Regions from separate parts of the Homo sapiens genome. Here region 2 is linked to region 1. Evidence: fine-mapped expression QTL. A gene starts in region 1. The other region holds a variant in brackets. All regions are shown on one strand. Distances are between the middles of the regions. Region 1 holds the start of FAM20A (FAM20A golgi associated secretory pathway pseudokinase). Region 2 overlaps FAM20A (FAM20A golgi associated secretory pathway pseudokinase).

Region 1 (2,906 bases):
TGAAACTGGGCAGAGGAATAAGGAAAGGGAAAGAACTGGGTTTTGGGGAGAAACATGCTTTCTGGAAGGCGCCCAGGTTTACCCAAAGAGCACAGTTAAGTGCTGAATTTCAACTAGCTCTGGAGTCACCCTGTTTGGGGCCTCATTCTGGAAACCCGAAGTCCAGCGGCAGCTTTCCTCCACATCAGGACAGAGAGTGGGGTTTGGGAGCGGACGAGGGAGCGGGAGTGGACGAGGGAGCAGGAGTGGGGCTCAACGACGACCCAGGCGCTCAAGGGGAAGGGGCTGAGAGCGTTTCTTCGCTGTGCGGCTGCAATAGAAACTTTTTCCTCGTACTATCTGACTCCGGGACTGGACTGTGAGGTCTGCAACAGCTGGTGGGGTTCGGGTGGGGAACACACTCTAAGCCCAGCGCCAGGGCTGGAGCCGTGGGTGGAGCCGCTGCAGCCCTGGGCCGGGGGCGTCAGGAAACTCGAGACTGGGGCGCGGGGAGGCCCCGGCCAGAGCGCCCGCTCTCCCGCGTCCCGGGCGGGGTCCTCACCTGTTCCAGCGGGCCACCTTCCTCCGGTAATACCGCAGCGCCTCCTGGCTGGCCAGGAGCGAGTCCTCGGCTCCCAGGAGAGGCGGCTCCTCCGGGACGTTGTACAGCGGGTGGGCGAAGAGGGCCTGCAACTTGGAGCTCGACCCGCTGTGGCTGCCGCCAGCCGGTTCAGTCCGGGGCTCGGTTCGGGAAAAGTTGTGCACGATCGTGCCGGGGTCCGAGGCAGCTGCGGCCGAGTCCCGCGCCAGGGAGGAGGCGCGGCCGGTGCACGGGCACCCCCGCGGGCGCTCCCGAGGCCGCAGCTGGCGCTGTACTTGGGGCCAGAGGTGGAAGTAGAGGTCGGCGGAGAGCAGCGCGCCCAGCAGCAGCAGAGTCAGTAGGCGGTCCCGGCGCAGCCCCGGCATGGCGTGCTGGCCAAGGGGGACGCCGGGGGCAGGCCGGCTGTCTCCGGGGTCCCGGGAGGGGTCGCGGGGTGCGGGCAGAAGAGGTGCCTGGAGTCCCGCGGGTGGGCCGGGGTCAGTGAGACCGGAATGCTCCCCGCGCGGGCTAGTCCCCTGTGGAGGGGTGTCGCTCCTCAACTTGGGGACCAGGTGCACGGAGCACCGGGGCTCTCGGAGTCAGCGGGCGTCGCTTCTCCGCGCCGAGTGAGCCGAGGGAATGGGGTTCCCGGGGTGCCCGCTTCTTGCGCCTTTTCTCCCGTGCGCCCGCCCGCCCGGACGCTCGCGGCAGGTGAAGGGCCCCGGGGCGCCGGCGCCGGCTGCCACCGCGGGCGGACGGGCGACGGGGCGGGGGGCGACCGCGGAGGGCGGACGGAGGCCGCCGGCTGCAAAGCCCGGGGCGTCTCTCCTGAGGATGCTGTCGCTCGGCGGCGGCTGCTAGTGCTCCCGCGACTCCTCCTGCGGGCGGCGGAGACGCCAGTGCCGGCGGCTGGCACGGGCGGCGCGAGTGGGGAGTTGGCGAAGCAGGAGCGGCTCCGGGGAGCTTGTCTGTGCGCCTGGACTCCTAGAGGCAGAGGTAGCGCGGGGCCTCCCCGAGCCTGGCCTGGCGCCGGCACCCCCACCCACTCTCCGCTGGCACCTGCCTCTGGCGCAGCTGACGGCCAACTCCCGATCCGAAGCCGGCGCTGCCCTTGCACCTTGTCACCCACCCACTGCCTGCGCCCTCCCCCTCGCTCGGGCCTCCCACTTTCCCTGCCCAGGTCTCAATCCAGTCACTTTAAGGGACTCACGCGAGGGGTCCGAAGCCTCTTTTTACCATTTCTATTATTTTTAGGGAAAAAAAAACCACCACAAGCCCCCTAAAACCCTTTTTTTCCTGTAAGCTTTGCCAAATGAGTGTGTGGGGGGGGGTGGGGGGAGGCGGGGGTGGCAGTGTTGGTATCTGTTCTTTCTTTGTGTTCCCTTCCACCTCCGCCCCCCTGCAGAGCGCAGGGCACATCAAGATTCATAACAACTACCTACCACATGCCTGGCACATAGTAGGTGCTCAGGAAACACGCTCTTGGTGAAGGAAAGAGCTTGACCTTTAAAAGTAAGGTATCAGTTTTACCTAGAATCTTGCTGATTTCCTGTTTGGAAGGAGTTTGATTCCAACTCTGCCTGTACTTTAAAAAGAGGAAATGTTTCTTGCACTCAGGGAGGGAGGGGCCCTGATGACCCCACTCCGAACTTTTGAGTTTAGCTTGGTGTGAAAGTAGTCCACCCAAATGAATCACTGGAGGACACATTTAGGCTTTCTCCAATATTCTGTGAGGTAATGTACCCTCCCCACACCCAGTTTTCCTTTTGAAGAAGAGGGAGGGAGTCCTGAACTCCTGGCTCCTCTATTTAATGACCCCATAGTATAGTAAAGTGAAGTCTGATTGGAGAGGCGGCCCCACCCTGCTGAATTTCAGGAAATCCACCAGAAGCTGCTTGCCCAGGCAGCAAAGCTTCCCATGTAAGTTAGTTCTACTCTTTAACCCCCTCCCTTCCCTTGCTGGAATTGAGAACCCTCAGACATACTTTGACTTGTGGGTTCAGACCAGAGTTCTTTTCCCCGTGGTTCAGTGTAAGATTTCTTCGGGACTTTGCAGTCTCCTCAAATGTAAATGAAGATAATGATGGAACCTACCTCCTAAGGTTATTATGAGACTTAAATGAATTGAAGTACAATTATGTGTCACGTCTGAGAAATGCATCCTTAGGCAATTTTCCTGTGTGTGTGAACATCAGGGTGTACTTACACAAACCTAGATGGTTCAGCCTACTACACACGGAGGCTACATGGCATAGCCTGTTGATCCTAGGTACAAACCTGTACAGCATGCGACTACTGAATGCTGTAGGGAGTTGTAACACAGTGGTGAGTACTTGTGTGTCTAAAC
Region 2 (2,906 bases), 23 kb before region 1:
AACTTAGAAAGAGCTGCCAACGGTGACCACTCTGAGGGGAGTGACCATGTGCAGAAAGACAGTCAAGGCTTGCAGAAGTCCTGCCATGACGGCTCCTGCTCAGAGGACATCTCTTAAACCATTTCCTTACGTAGCACACACCAATTCCCCTCTATTCTGCATGGTACATGACACATTTTGGGAAACATGAAATATTAAAGCTGGACTGCGGAGCTCCTCAACCTAATTGTGATGTGATGATTCACGCAGCACAGGGGCCTTGCAGCTGCAGAATCTCCCTTTCTGCAGAACTGTTGCCTCCCTGCTGTAGACCAGTGGTTCGCCACTGGGGGCGATTTTACCCCTCAGGGGACATTTGGCAATGTTTGGAGACATATTTGGTTGTCATAGTTGGTGGGGAGAGTGCTGAGGGCTGTTGTAAACATTCTCCAATGCAAAGGACAGCTCTGCACAAGAGAAAATGATCTGGCCCCAAATGTCAGTAATGCTGAGTTAGAAATCCTGGGCTAGAGCCATAGAATAATGAGCAAATAAAGCACTTAATCCTCTGATGATGGCCTGAAAATTGCTCTGATGGATTTTGCACTCGGTGTAATTTAATATTTTCCATAGACGCGTAAAAGCCTTCCTCAGAGCCTCTCCACTCCTTCTATAGCTTCTGCACAGCCAAAAATTAAAAATGTTACTTAATTGTTTAAAAAAAGAAAACCAATTTGAGTCAGCAAGCATTTAGTTGTCAGACTTCTACCAACCTAACAAGCATATTGATAAAACACTAACACACGTGTTAGTTGCAAAAGATGCAATATTGATTTATTTAAATGTCATCATTGTGGTGCTTTTCAATCTTCCAACTGTGTAATCCTAAAATAAATAAATATATATTTCACACACCACACACACACACACACACGCACACTATTAGCAAGTGACATTGGATAGACAGGTGTCCTCTCTTTCCTCTACCATTTTCCTGAATGCAAAAAGAAGAAACGTGGTGTAAAGGCAATACTCTGAGAGAACCAAGACAAAGCAGGAGCTTTAAAAATCCACCCCCTGGGTCCTCTAATAATCAAAGGTTTACCAGAATATATTTATTTTCAAAAGTGTCTGAATTCTGCCTTACTGCCTATCATACAGGCATGGGCATTTGAAAGAGAGATGGATTTGAATGTTGGGGAATCTGCATGTAGGTGGGTACAATACGGGGTTAGGCTGGGGCACATATTTTCATGGTTCATAAGCAAATTTCCTTGTGGCTCACTCAGATTAAATTCTTTCAAGTCCTTGGCCTGTGAGCTAGTGCTAATTTGCGTGGTATTATTTTTCCACCTGATTTGCAAACCAAGAGAATGATAGCAAATGTTGGCCTCCTTTCCTCCTCAGCATGACCAGTCACCCATGTGGTAGGATAATTTATTGAGATATT[A/C]ATGTGTTTTTTGTTCTTCCGGAATTTTACCCACCCCTGTTCTCAGAAGATAGCTGGGCCTTTGTGTTCCTTGCCTCAGAGTGTTTTTAGGATCCAGGACCAAGGGGAAGTTTAGACAGGTAGCCAGGCTTCTCTCACTCCTTCCTTGGATTTTTAAAAATGTCTAGGCTCGGCCAGGTGCAGTGGCTCATGCCTGTAATCCCAGCACTTTGGGAGGCCGAGGCAGGCGGATCACAAGGTCAAGAGATCGAGACCATCCTGGTGAACATGGTGAAACCCTGTCTCTACTAAAAATACCAAAAAAAAAAAAAAAAAAAAAAAAAAAATTACTGGGCGTGGTGGCAGGTGCCTGTAGTCCCAGCTATTCAGGAGGCTGAGGTAGAAGAATTGTTTGAACCCGGGAGGCAGAGGTTGCAATGAGCAGAGATCGCGCCACTGCACTCCAGCCTGGTGACAGAGCGAGACTCTGTTTCAAAAAAAAAAAAAAAACATGTCTAGGCTCAGTGAAGGCATTTGCTAGGCAGGGGGATTTAACAGAGAATGTGAAAGTGCATAAAGAAGCACAGAATTTTGGGGAAGCATGAAGAGACTCCAAGGTTAGGAAAGGAGAGTTGACTGGGGTCTGTGTCTGGCCTGTTTCTTGGAGGTGATCCAATGTGCTGGGGAACGGTTAGGTGTGTGCAGAGAAAGACTCATTTTAGGCACCAGAAACCGAGTCTCAGCCAATAATCCTGTGCTTGAACTTGATGCAGAACCAACAGTGCCACCCACCTGCACGAGACCAGGTGATGGAACATGGACTATGGGTCCTCCTCAAATGTGCTCCCAGACACCCTAAGGACATTGACCCAACATGAGGGGCTTGGGGTAAGGAGCTCCAGTGATGACTCAGACTAAATTTCTAGCCAACCAAACAGAAAAGAGGGCCTAGAGTCCAAAGTGATTGGACTTTTGAAAAATAAACCAATGCTATGTTACTTTGATTTTTGAGTTTGTAGAGCAAAATCCATCTGAATTCATTTACCTATTGAGTGAGAGTAGGGTAGGTTCTGTTAGAGCAACAGCTTAATCCTGAAATCGGAGTGGCTTTTCAAAACAAGAGCTTATTTCTCACTCATGCTACTTGTCTCGTGAAGGTCAGTAGGGATTCTGCTCCACACACTGACTCAGGGACCCAGCTTGATGAACACACCAAGATCCCAACAAATGGTCTTCACAGTCATCAGGGCAAGAAAAGAGAGGAACTGGAAGATGAAGTGCTGGCTCTTCAATGCTTTGGGAAGCGACGCAGATCACATCAACTGATAACCCATTGTCCAGGACTAGTCACATGACCCCAACTAACTGCTGGGGGCTGGAACACACGGGAGAACAAGTGGACTTTGGTGAGCAGAAAATGCCTCTGCCACAGCCTCTTGGTACTTATTGAACATAGGATGTGTCTTTTGATTTAATACTATTAATAGTTTGCATTTGC

The links.
Region 2: its variant is fine-mapped to the expression of FAM20A in whole blood (INTERVAL, PIP 0.95).

What each region holds. Positions count from the first base shown.
Region 1 is chr17:68,599,722-68,602,627 of GRCh38, forward strand. FAM20A (FAM20A golgi associated secretory pathway pseudokinase) reads right to left here and starts at 1,646. Exons shown (of 11, transcript NM_017565.4): 1 at 542-1,646. The coding sequence starts at 945.
Region 2 is chr17:68,577,112-68,580,017 of GRCh38, forward strand. All of the region lies in intron 1 of FAM20A (FAM20A golgi associated secretory pathway pseudokinase), which reads right to left. Among named protein-coding and RNA genes, the nearest start is that of FAM20A, 23 kb to the right of the region's middle. The variant A/C (reference allele first, on the strand shown) is at 1,430.